4 separate regions of the Homo sapiens genome follow, and all the other regions are reported to be linked to region 1. The links are microRNA targets in miRTarBase. Many come from high-throughput screens and were not tested one by one. Region 1 holds a microRNA gene; each other region holds the end of a gene's coding sequence. Distances are between the middles of the regions.

What was found. Region 1 holds the annotated microRNA hsa-miR-205-3p (GAUUUCAGUGGAGUGAAGUUC, at 1,799-1,819, shown strand). A microRNA usually pairs through its seed, bases 2 to 8, with sites in the 3' UTR of a target mRNA and lowers its output. Matches are read on the target gene's strand: a 7mer-m8 pairs with bases 2 to 8, a 7mer-A1 pairs with bases 2 to 7 and ends in A, and an 8mer does both.
Region 2: miRTarBase lists IFFO2 as a target of hsa-miR-205-3p. The part of its 3' UTR that is shown has no 7-base or 8-base seed match.
Region 3: miRTarBase lists PUS7L as a target of hsa-miR-205-3p. Seed matches in the 3' UTR shown: 7mer-A1 at 2,235-2,241.
Region 4: the mRNA of FAAP24 is a reported target of hsa-miR-205-3p. The part of its 3' UTR that is shown has no 7-base or 8-base seed match.

The regions. Positions count from the first base shown.
Region 1 is chr1:209,430,405-209,433,549 of GRCh38, forward strand. It overlaps MIR205 (microRNA 205), which reads left to right and starts at 1,729; the gene lies at 1,729-1,838. It overlaps MIR205HG (MIR205 host gene), which reads left to right. Exons shown (of 4, transcript NR_145437.1): 3 at 21-72; 4 at 1,800-2,145. RefSeq lists an enhancer at 2,570-3,145.
Region 2 is chr1:18,906,015-18,909,014 of GRCh38, reverse strand. IFFO2 (intermediate filament family orphan 2) reads left to right here. Exons shown (of 9, transcript NM_001136265.2): 9 at 349-3,000. The coding sequence ends at 454. Among named protein-coding and RNA genes, the nearest start is that of ALDH4A1, 5.0 kb to the right of the region's middle.
Region 3 is chr12:43,727,567-43,730,711 of GRCh38, forward strand. It overlaps PUS7L (pseudouridine synthase 7 like), which reads right to left. Exons shown (of 9, transcript NM_031292.5): 9 at 1-3,136. The coding sequence ends at 2,810. Among named protein-coding and RNA genes, the nearest start is that of PUS7L, 30 kb to the right of the region's middle.
Region 4 is chr19:32,976,525-32,979,640 of GRCh38, reverse strand. It overlaps FAAP24 (FA core complex associated protein 24), which reads right to left. Exons shown (of 5, transcript NM_152266.5): 5 at 1,412-3,116. The coding sequence ends at 2,959. RHPN2 (rhophilin Rho GTPase binding protein 2) reads left to right here. Exons shown (of 15, transcript NM_033103.5): 15 at 1-1,049. Among named protein-coding and RNA genes, the nearest start is that of FAAP24, 5.8 kb to the right of the region's middle.

The DNA.
Region 1 (3,145 bases):
CTCCCATTTGCTTTTTGCAGACACTGTCATCTCTCAAGTACCCATCTTGGAGGGTACGGACCCCACATGAGGGTGAGGCTCTCTGCACACTCCAGAGTGAGGACTTTAATAATCTAGTGGACTGTACATGTTGGGAGGGGAAGAGCGGGGTGCCGAGGGTCTGGAGGGAGAAGAATTGACTGCCCCTTTTGCTCTTGGAGTTAAGCAGAAATCTAAAGAGAAGGCAAAGAATCTTGCCTTCCTGGCATCATTTCCTCCTACCATCCCAGGCCATCATTTATTTATTACAGCCAACAGACTGGCCTCTTTCTTCCCTTTGACTGGGAATGGGTCAAAGGCGGTGCAGGAGGAGGATCTGGTCCAGATAATTCACAAGCAGGGTGCATTTTCCTCTCATTATTGAGAACTGTGAGTGTTTATCAAGAAGGCAGAGCAGGAGAAGATGAACCAGTCTTCTTCCCCTCACTACCCAGATCTCTGCCTGCCAACAAGCCCCGTGTTCACCCTGGCAAAGAGTCTTTACATTCAGACCAAGGAGAGTGTGACTCCTTCTCAGCACTAGCTAGAAACCTCAAGCCCTTGCTTAAGGGCCTTTTTCAGAGAGACCCAATGCCCAGAAGGCTAGATGCGTGGGGAGGAGCCACATACGAGAAACTGCCTCCCTGCTTCGGGTCAGAACAAGCCCCAGGAAGAAAGTATTTCAAACAACAAGGTGCATCTGCCCCAACCCATCCAGCCTGCATGTTGGTGCTGAGAACAGCCTTTTATGGGGCTTGCACTGAGCCATGGGCATGTCTGAACACAACAAGGAAGAGGCCAGAGCAGCAACAGCACGCAAAGGGTTGATGGGCATTTCTTTTAAGACAGAGCAGAAAACTCTTAGATACTTTGCGTCCTTCCTATTTGACTCAGTCTATGAAAGCCAGGTTAGCTTGCTTTCTTCCTCCCTAAATCCTCCATCCTCATGACCAACAAAGAAATAGTTGAATCATTTTCCAGGCACATCTTGGGGAGGATGTGGGGCCATTGGAGGCTGTCCTTCCTAGATAAGTCTTTAGGAGTGAGAACAAGGAGTCTTACCCTCCTCTGTCCACCCACCCCCATGAATGGGCCTGGCTCCAGCCAGGAGTTGTGGTTTTTCCTGAGCTCCTCACCTATCTCTTCTGGATTTCACATTGGCAAACGGGGTTGCAAAGTGCTCTTCGTGCTCTTTGGACAGTGCCTTGTGGAGAGGAATGCCCATGCCCCTGCATTCCAAGGCCTTGGTAAGCAAGCTCAGAGTAGCTGGATTTTTCTAAAGCAATTGCAGAACACCTGCTTTTTCTTTGTTTCCTCTAGAAAGGACCAACCACACCGAGCTCAGTTATGGCACACACAGTGGGACCTAGACAAAGGGAGAGGGTGACCGACATCCCAACTAGGTAAACACAGAGGAGGTTCCACATGGACTTATCTGGGTGGCTGTTTTGAAAACGAGAAACAGTCAAGAGTCCCTGGCCCCACAGACCCACCTCCCCAACTCAGCACTGTCTGTCTGTGCAGCAGGTGCAAGGACGTGTTGAACTAGCTCTCTGCAGCCTCCTTGGAGGATGTGATCCTATGGGAGGGGTAGGAGTATTCAGGTCCTTGACATCTCCCAAATGTGTGATTCCGGGATGCCAAAGGCCTTTGGCCAGGTAATGCAGTGTCTACAGGCTGAGGTTGACATGCATCCCCACCCTCTGAGAAAAAGATCCTCAGACAATCCATGTGCTTCTCTTGTCCTTCATTCCACCGGAGTCTGTCTCATACCCAACCAGATTTCAGTGGAGTGAAGTTCAGGAGGCATGGAGCTGACAACCATGAGGCCTCGGCAGCCACCGCCACCACCGCCGCCGCCACCACCGTAGCAGCAGCAGCAGCAGCAGCAGCAGCAGCAGCAGCAGCAAGAGTAACTCTGACTTAGGAATAGAGACAGCCAGAGAGAAATGTGATCAATGAAGGAGACATCTGGAGTGTGCGTGCTTCTTCAGAGGGACGGGTGATGGGCAGATTGGAAAAAGCACCGCAGATGGGAACCTTAATCTTTCTTTTCTAAAATTGATGCTATGAAAATTTGCGTTTTCTGTAACTTGTAAAAACTAAAAGTTGCTTGTCTACTGAAAAGCCTCTCTGCCTCTATGTTTTATACCATCGGATGCCAACTCCCGGCCTTCTAAGCCACCTCCCCTTTAGGCTAAAACTGAGACATGAACTTGAAAAATTGACACTGGCTTCCTCTCTCTTTAGGGTCCCCAGGCAGGTGGCTGGGACACTATTTGCAATCAGCAAGGAACCCTGCTGCCCTTAGACTCCCCACAGAGCAAGCAGAACTTGCAGAATGGGGTAAAAACACTCTATTAAAGATTTTTTAAACCTATTTATATTGTAATAAAGTAAATGTAAATAAAATTTAAGTGAAGGCAGATTGCAGATATTTCCGATGCTATACAAGATATATCTCATAGTATGGGTGTAGATTCTGCAAAGGTTAATGCAGTTAAACATATTTGACACATAAAAATGTCAGATCCAACATTAATCATTCACCAATTGTAATTGCCTTTCTATGGGTCTCTTCTCCCCAAGACATAGCTTAAAACACCAGGCTCGGTAGAAATCTGGGAGGAAAAAAGCAAATAATACCTCTCAGCTGTCAGGGTCTATGATACGCTTTGATAGATTTAGCACTGATTTCATTCTCTTTACAATTCAGTGTGATTGGGTGTGCGTGTGTGTGTGTGTGTGTGTGTGTGTGTGTGTGTGTGTTACTCCATGTTTCTCCTTTTTAAGGAAGGAGAAGGTGTGGAACAAGAGAAAGTTCCTAAGTCTGAAGGAAGTCCAACCCAGTTATGAAGGGAATGCCATCCACAAGCCTTTTTTATAATTGGCCCCTGCCTCAGGTAAAGGGGTCTCCTTTAAGGAGCCAGTCTGGCTAAATTGGCAGATTCTGAACAAAGCCTGGCCCTGACAAGTCTTCAGAAAAACCGGTTTTCACCTCCAGAATGTGCCCCAGGCAGCAAAATACAATAGCTCTCCTTGGCTGAGTGGTGTTTTTCTTAGGAGCTCACTCTAAAGGAGATTCCAGCTTTGCAGATGGATACCGATCACTTGAATGGCCAAGCCC
Region 2 (3,000 bases), 190 Mb from region 1:
ATGGCCTCCTTTTGAGCTCTGAGTCATTCAGGTTTTACTTAGCACCTACTATATGCCCAGACATGGGTTAGGTGCTTGGAGAGTAACAGCCAAACTTGATCCACGGTCCAGCTCCCAAGGGGCTTTCTTCCTAGAGAAGCCAACACAGCCAGACCAAGTAGGGGCTGGTGCAGGGGGTTACCTCGTGAGCTTAAAGGATCTTAAGGATAGCTGAGTGAGGCAGGAGCTCAGGACCAGGCCCCTCTGAGAGTAGATCTTATAGAAGTGGCAGCTCAGCCTTCCCACTCCTTGACCCTTCAGAGGCCCAGGGCTGCTCTCTGAATTTCCCCACTCTCTTGTGCTTCTCAGGAATTCACCGTCCCCCAGCTCCGTGGCCAGCAGCGACTCAGGAAGTACAGATGAGATCCAGGATGAGTTCGAGCGCGAGGCGGATGTGGAGCCCATGGTCAGCTGATGACTGAGGCCCTGCGAGCCTGGTGGTCTTGGTGATGGGGCCCTGCCACCTCTCCTCATGGGGCCAGGAAGGCCCCTCGGAGTGGGGTTCGAAGCCACACCACACAGACTTTCTCTGCCCTCCCTTCTCTGGAGGCCCTGAGGGACTGCTGCTTCCTTCCTTCCTTCCACACCACCAACGGGTGCCCCGTCTCCATCCCCCACCCACCCAAGGAATGGTGCTGTCAATTTCTATTGTTCTCCACATTACAAATGCAGACTTCTGTGCGGACTTTGCAGTGTTAACTGTGCCTTCTCCCTTAAGCTGAGCCACTTTGAGCTCCAAAGAATTATTCCTAGCAGGTGTTTTTATACAGAACTCTAAGCTGAGGGCCGGGCCAACCGGCCGTGGTGTAATGTGGTTTCTGCCGTCCGTCCCACCTGCTCCTCTGATTGGCCATGGGCTATGCCCTCCCTTCCTCCTGAGCCAGCCCAGACTCGGCCTGGAGCTTGGGGTGCTCTGCCAACCCCCAGGAAGGAGCCGCTTGCCTCTGTGAGCTTTCTAGGCCTGGGTAGGGACCACCCCAATTTTCTCACTCCCTGAAGGAGAGAAAGGTGGAAGGAAGGGAAGGAGGACACATTTTAATTTTTTGGGGGGATCGAGTGGCAAAGTTGAAGGGACAAGGCACTGTGAGGGGAAGGCAGAGCCTCACTGTGTTTAAACTACTATGCAAAAAACAAAACAAACAACAAAAGCAGCTTGCCTTATATCATTGTGGAAGGCAGGACCTCTCCTGGGCTCCTGGCTTCCCCCTGGAGCTGGGAGAGAGGCCGGGGTTAGGGTGATCTGTGTGGCAGCACTGACTGGGTAGTGTGGGTTTGGCCGAGGTTGGTCATGAGGCTGGGGTTCCCGCAAGGCACTGGCCTCCCTGACCGCTTGCTTCCTTCCGGACCTCTGGGTTCAGGGCGGGGGCGGAGGGATCCTTGATTTCCCTGATAACTTGATGTTCTTCCCTCCCTCGCCAGCCAACAATAGAGGCTTAGAGATCTGTAATTTCTCTGTGAGAAAGTCTGAAGGGGCCAGGCCTGGTCTCTGCTCCCTTCTACCCGCCTTGGGTTAGGACTGTCCGGCAGTTGCCTGCTTTTGGCTGCTGGCAGGAGAGAAGCAGGGTGGGCTGCTGGCAGTGCAGGAGCTGGAGTGAGGGCCATCCTCTTTCTGCTCCTCGACACACGCAAGCCGCTCTCAGCAGTTCCCTCGACTGGCCAGTCGGGGTATTGATCTGAGCCAGCATCCCCCAAGACTTGAATGGCTTGAGTGGGACTGCGTTGAAGGGCACTGTGTGGCCCCCTTCCAAATCTCAGCTTGGAGCCAGCTGAGCAGGCTTTGCTTTATTATTATTTTTTAAGCCTACTGCAGTGGGTCTGTTGCCAATTTTAATTTTTTATTGTCCCAGGAGCTCCCTCTAGTGGTCAAGGTAGCAAAATGTGCCCAAGGACTAGAACTTGGGTCCCTCTGCCTTGCCTGGAGGCAGAAGGAGGGGGCTCTGGGTTTGACTGGGATTGTGGTCCCCAGGGGTCCGTGGCCTTTAAGGCTCTTCTCTCTTTTCTGTTTCCCCCACCTGTGTTACAGTCTTAAAAATACTGTACATAAAAGATATATGTAGAGAGAGAGAGAGAGCGTGAGAATGTGTTAGTGACTATGTGTGATGTAATTTATCACGATTTGGTGGCCTTCGTCATGAGTTTTTTCCTTTGTTTTCTTTTGCTGGGGGCACCTCCCACGGGTCCCCTGTGGCAGTCTGGCTGTGACACTTCCATAGTCAGCATCTCTTGTTAGCCAAACAGTTCCCTTTGACAGGTACTTGGAGGGACAATGGTTTTGGAAGAGAGACGGCCCTTCTCTCTCCTCACTCACCCTTGTTCTAAAGGTTACAGGGTTCAAACATACCTGATTCTTGTTGTTATTGTTGTTGAATTTTTATTTTAACCAAAGGTTATCAGAGCCAGTTGGGCTTGGACCTCAGCTGCTAAAAAGATTTTCCGTTTCCTCGAGGGCAGGAAAACATCCACCCTCGTGGGTCTCCTCCGTCCAGGGCCGAGGGAGGCATTGGACAATGTGGTATGGGAGTTTCGTGGGCAGCGTGGAAGCCGGCCCTGGGTTGTTCCCCAAGGTGGTGGGAGGGTGACAGATATATCTTTAGACTTAAGACTGTAAGGCAGCAGTGTTAGCATGGGAGTAACTAAGGTTACTGTGGTTATCGGTGTCCGGCGGTATTATTTTTACTTTCCTCCTTGTATACATAGGTCATTTGTCTTTGAGGACTAGGGTACTCTAGGGAGTTTGAAAACTGCAGGAGCCAGAAAGAGATCCTGGCCTGAGAGTCCCTTCTGGCTGGCTTTTAATATCTGCTCTCCTCTTGGGAGTGAGGACTTGGGGCAGGTGGGTAGGAGAGGGAAAGCCAGAGTGTGATGGGCCTGCCTCCTGGGCTGGTTCCTGGGTCCGGCCTGCCTGCCTGCCTGCCTGCCTCTCCACCACATGCTTTTTTCAGTTAATGTCAGTGGGCCCTG
Region 3 (3,145 bases), not on the chromosome of region 1:
CAAATTAATGCAGGAACAGAAAACCAAATACCAAATGTTCTTACTCATAAGTGGGAGCTGAACTTTGAGTACACTTGGACTCTAAGAAGGGAACAATAGGCACCATGGCCTACTTGAGGGTGGAGGGTGGGAGAAAGATGAGGATAGAAAAACAACCTATCAGGTACTATGCTCATTATCTGGGTGATTAAATAATTTGTATGCAGAACTCCCACAAAATGCAATTTACCCATGTAACAAACCTGCACATGTACCCCTAAACCTAAAATAAAAGTTGGAAGAAAAAATAAAAATAAAGCAAAACTTTGGAAATGGGGCTATAGAAGGTCAGCAAAGGGTAGGTTTGAGATGTTTGGGTAGGTTAAGTGGGCATTTTGATGACACAGCTTCTCCTTCGGCATGTTTAATTGGCATGTGATGTTTAAAGGACATCCTTGCAGTTTAAGATGACACTTTAAAAATAAATTAACTCCTAATAATGAGGTGAAGAAAAAAAAAAAACTAATCCAAAGATCATGCTTATGAAGGTCTGAAATGCCCCAGCAAAACTGCAAAAACCTAAGTGACTAGTCATCAGTTGGTCCAAAGCATACTATTAATAATAAAAGTCCTTAAACAAAAAAAGTTTAACATGGCATCTTATTGGCATATAAAATAATATTCCACATGAATGATATCTCAATACATTTTATGGTGATGAAATAAACTTAGTGTTCCTTTATACACTGCTGAAGTATTTACTAAATAAATCAATAAATGTCTAAAATTATAGTGCCATCTGCAGGCAAAAAAAGTAAAATCAATGATATATTTTCATGCTTTCGTATTTTCTGATTGCTATTCAAAACTTTTAAAAACTAGGATTTAATAATGTATATAACTCATTTTATGATTACATTTATAGGATACGATTTATCATATAAAATAAAACATTTTTTCTAAATTTTTTTTACTACCTAATAGAGGATCACTTCATTCTCAATATAACATTAAAATGATGGCAGTAATCCAAAGAAAATCAATGGTACTACAATATCCAATTTTGTGTATTGAGAATTATTTATTGCCAAAACATATAACAAAAAAAACTTTTTAGTATTAAAAAAAATCCAAATACCCCATCATCTTAACAGGAAGGGATTTTCATTTATTTGCTTTTCTCTTCCAAACTTGCATCTGCAGACACTTACTTAACAATAACTAAGTGCCAGGCACTTTTTAAAGTTGCTTTACATATATTAACTTAGAAAATTCTCACAGTAATCCTATGAGGTAGGCAATGTTAACATGCCCATTTTACAGATGTTGAAACTGAAGCCCATGAGTTTAAATAACTTTCCCAAGGCTGCAGTGCTATACGTGGCAGTGCCAGGGTTCAAACTGGGTTAGTTTGTCTCCAATATCTGTGCTTTTAATCACTATGCTAACATGTCTCTTATTTGTGAAAGATGAATTCAGAGTATTATTGCAGTTGTAACATATGTGTTCTACTTTTAGGGGGCAACATTTTCTCATGAAACTAAATTGTTCATTGCTTTTTTAAATAACTACATATTTTACCATCAAGTTGATACACATCATTTTACTTACTTTAGTTACGTAATGCTGGACTTTGAAAACTGTTTTTAGTGTCTGTATATGAAAATATTGCAATAAGCAAATTTTGCATTGCATATAGCTTCTCTTCCTTCTTTTGGATTTTATTTCCTAATGCTAACATTTCCCAAAATGGTTAAACTGGCTTAAGTATATATATCACATTACTGATATATAATGCTCCATACTGCTTTTTAAATTTCATCATTATATCTTACCAACAATGAAAGAAATGCTCAGATCTTCCTAAATCAATACATGTCTACATGCCAGTCATTCCTCCCCAACACACCCATATTTAACTGATATAAAATGGTGAAGGATGATTTATAATGTGGGATAGTTAAACCAACAAAAATTAAAATTTTCAAATGGGCACAATGTTTTGTTCCTCCAGCAACAGAAAATGTGGAGATAATCCTATTATTTGTCATTTATGAAGTTGTAATTGTCTTGATTCTATCAGTAACCACACACAAAAAAATCAACAACATACTCAAAATCACTAGTAAGTGTCAGAGCTAGAATCTAAGAATGAATCTGTCTGACTCTAACACCTGTTTTAGATAATATGAAAAAATTACAAATGGTCAAGAGGGTCAGCGTATGCCAAGATATAAAAATTGGATGAGAAATTGTATTTCAATCTTCATCAAAGATTACTTATCTCACAAAGAGGTAATAACTACTCTGGGGTATCTATCACAAACAGAGGTATGGCATTTCCCTTGTATATTGTTCTGATCAATAATTTCAAAAACAGGAAAGGGGGACAATAATAATTAGCAAAATGCTTCATCTATCTTTCTCTCCAACATTTGCTTCACTGCGACCTAATTTTACTAGTGTTCTAAGCAAGGAGCTGGAGGATATGAATATTCACAACTTTTTTTCTTAAATGTTATCTTGCAGTATTATATATATTCCTAATGGTTTTAAAAGATTGTAACTTTATGACACAGAATAAAGGTCACTGAAACATATAATAGAAAAAAAACACAGGCTTTGGGGTCACATGGACCTTAAATTTGGACCCTGACACTTACATATCCTCTATAAAATTACAGTATCAAATCCTAACTTCTCAGGATGCTGTGAAAATTAAAAGAGATAACAATTATGAAGTTCCTAACACATGGAAGGTGCTTAAGACATTTTAGCCCCCTTTCCTTCAAAGAGTGACATATATATGGTTATACCAAGGGTATCAGTTTTAAACGTCATGCTTCATTATTTCCTTCAGACAAACGGTAGCATAGCATGAAGCATCAAGATCAAAAGAGATCAAAAGAGACAAAGCTGTTTCATCAATGTGGGAACCTTTCGTTTTGACATCAATGTCATGATCTTCCATTAGTTGGTATGAGAGATTACAGGGATGTTTCAAAATCTGTCTATAGCAACCTGGTATATTCAGTTTCAGAGTAGGTACTTTAAACCTACATGTCTGTAGTCCATCTCTGCTAAGTATGTCATGGTACCACTGCCCTACTTTGTTCTTCGGGTACTGAATATTGTATCCAAGTACTGGAAGAACCACCTGTGAAAG
Region 4 (3,116 bases), not on the chromosome of region 1:
GTTTCCAGGTTTGGCTAATAATCATTCCTTAACCTAGAATTCAGATGATCCTGGAATTAAGGCAGGTCAGAGGACTGTAATGATAGAATTAAATTAGTGTCACTAAAAACTGTCCCAAAGTGCTGCTTCCTAATAGGAATTCATTAACCTAAAACAAGATGTTACTATTATATCGATAGACTATGAATGCTATTTCTAGAAAAAGTCTAGTGCCAAATTTGTCTTATTAAATAAAAACAATGTAGGAGCAGCTTTTCTTCTAGTTTGATGTCATTTAAGAATTACTAACACAGTGGCAGTGTTAGATGAAGATGCTGTCTACAAGGTAGATAATATACTGTTTGATACTCAAAACATTTTTCATTTTGTTTAAAGTAGAAGTTACATAATTCTATATTTTAAGTCTTGGGTAAAAAAGTAGTTTTACATTTTATAAAGTAAAGATGTAAATGATTCAGGTTTAAAGCTCTATTTGACTTCCTTTTTTTGTTTGAGATAGCGTCTTGCTGTGTTGCCCAGGCTGGAGTGCAGTGGTGTGATCTCAGCTCAGTGCAACCTCCGCCCCCTGGGATCAAGCGATTCTCCTACCTCAGCCTCCCAAATAGCTGGGACTACAAGGTGCCCTCCAGCATGCCTGGCTGATTTTTGTATTTTTAGTTGAGGTGAGGTTTCACCATGTTGGCCAGGCGGGTTTCGAAATCCTGACCTCAAATGATCCACCCACCTCAGCCTCCCAAAGTGCTGGGATTACAGGCATGAGCCACCACAACCGTCCCACTATTTTACTTTTTAAAATGACATTCCTACTGATTGATTTTTATCTTGCTATAAGTTCGATGACACCGTGAATCTAATAAGGTTCACTGTTGACACAGTACAAGTTACATAGCTAAAATACATAGCATTGAAGACTAATTTTAAGGATTGACAAGAGTTTATTTTCTATTGTGCAATATCTTAAAGGAAGCAACCACCTTTGGGAAAGTGTATCTGCTGCTCCTAGGGCCATGCTTGTATACATATTTAAATAAACATATTCATTTACCCGAGTTAATATTTCTTTTTACTTTTATTTCATTTTCATTCCCTCCTCTTTCAAATTGTTTCTCCCCAATGCACACAGTTTCTAATGTTCTGATTTTTTTAGTTACTAACATTTCACAAAGCAGAACTTAAAAAGCTGTCAAGTTATCTTAGTATTTTCTAAGACAGATGGTATCTTTGTGCTTATTTTTTGTTTTTGTCTTTTTTTCAAGACAGGGTCTCGCTTTGTCACCCAGGCAGGAGGACAGTGGCGCAATTGTGGCTCATGGCAGCCTCAACCTTCCGGGCTCAAGCAATCCTCCCACCTCACCCTCCTGAGTAGCTGGGACTACAGGCATGAGCCACCATGCCTGGCTAATTTTTTTGATTTTTTTGTAGAGATGGGGTCTTGCCATGTTGCCCAGGCTGATCTCGAAATCCTGGACTCAAGCAATCCTCCCACCTCAGCCTCCCAAAGTGCTGGGACTACAGGTGTGAGCCACTGTGCCTGGCCTGTGTCTATTTTTTGAATGGGCAATTTGTACCTTTTGATCCCCAGCCCCTGCTTCCCTCACTAGATGCAGCTGCTGCCATCATTTTCTTGTATCCTTCCATTGTTGGGCCTTTCATATACAAACACAGCCTGTTCTGCCTCATGCATGTTGAGTTTTCAACTTTAAATTTTTTTTTTTTTTTTTTGAGATGGAGTCTCACTCTGTCATCCAGGCTGGAGTGCAGTGGTGCAATCTCGGCCCATTGCAACCTCCACCTCCTGGGTTCAAGCGATTCTCGTGCCTCAGTCTCCTGAGTAGTTGGGATTACAGGTGTGTGCCACCACACCCAGCTAATTTTTGTATTTTTAGTAGAGACAGGGCTTCACCATGTCGGCCAGGATGGTCTGGATCTCCTGACCTTGTGATTCACCCCCCTTGGCCTCCCAAAGTGCTGGGATTACAGGTGTGAGCCACTATGCCCGGCCGTTGAGTTTTCAACTTTAAGTGGGAACTTCAGACTTCATACTTTCTGTGTGCAGAAGACATATGCAGTGATTATAAACAAACTGTACATCTGCCAAAAAAAAAGGCCGGGGGGAGGGAGGAACAAAGGAAAGGAGGAAGGAACTGTTGCGCAGTTATTTATTTACATTGGAAACAGCCCTCGCAGTACGGGTATATGAAGGCCAGACCTGATGAACAGCAGGTGAAACTCTGGGAACCCAGGGCTTAGGATACACAGTGCTTCCTTGTACATTTGTTTCCTTCAGATGGTCACATCCACCACTGAAGCTTTTTAGAAGGCACTTTCCATGACAGATGCAGGTCAAGGTCGCACATTAAAATCGGCCCTAATGCTTTTTGCTGAGTGTGAGTCCCTGACTCTCTTGCGAAGATCCCACCAGCCCTTTTCGTCTTAGCAGAATGAAGGCAGTGCCCTCTGCGGCCCACTAACTTCACAAGCTGAACTCAGACGCTAAGGCAGGACGACCCACGGGCTCCATTCAAGCCTCGCCTCATCTTTCACTGGTTGCTGCTGGAGAAAATCCTTTTTCTTTTTTTTTTTTTTTTGTTGTTTTCTTTGAGACGGAGTCTCGCTCTGGTGCCCAGGCTGGAGTGCAGTGGCACGATCTCAGCTCACTGCAACCTCCGCCTCCCGGGTTCAAGTGATTCTCATGCCTCGGCCTCCCAAGTAGCTGGGATTACAGGCACCTGTCACCATGCCTGGCTAATTGTTCCTATTTTTAGGGGTTTCTCCATGTTGGCCAGGCTGGTCTTGAACTCCTGACCTCAGATGATCCGCTGTCTTCGGCCTCCCAAAGTGCTGAGATTAGAGGCGTGAGCCAGTGCACCCGGCCCATTCTCTTGGTTTTTAAAGCTGAAAACAAGATCCTGGTGTTTGTGGTCTCAGGAGAAGATGCCGTGGCCCTGAGGCCAGCCCTCACCTGGGCTGCGTGAAGAAGGCATGGATCTGCTGTGCCACTGCTTGTCCGACCACCTGCTCCAGTTCCCCAATGGAAGCATTACTCAGTTGCTGGATGCTTGGAAACTTCTGGAGGAGAAGGGGAGCTTTAACTTTTCCAACTCCTGGGATCTGCT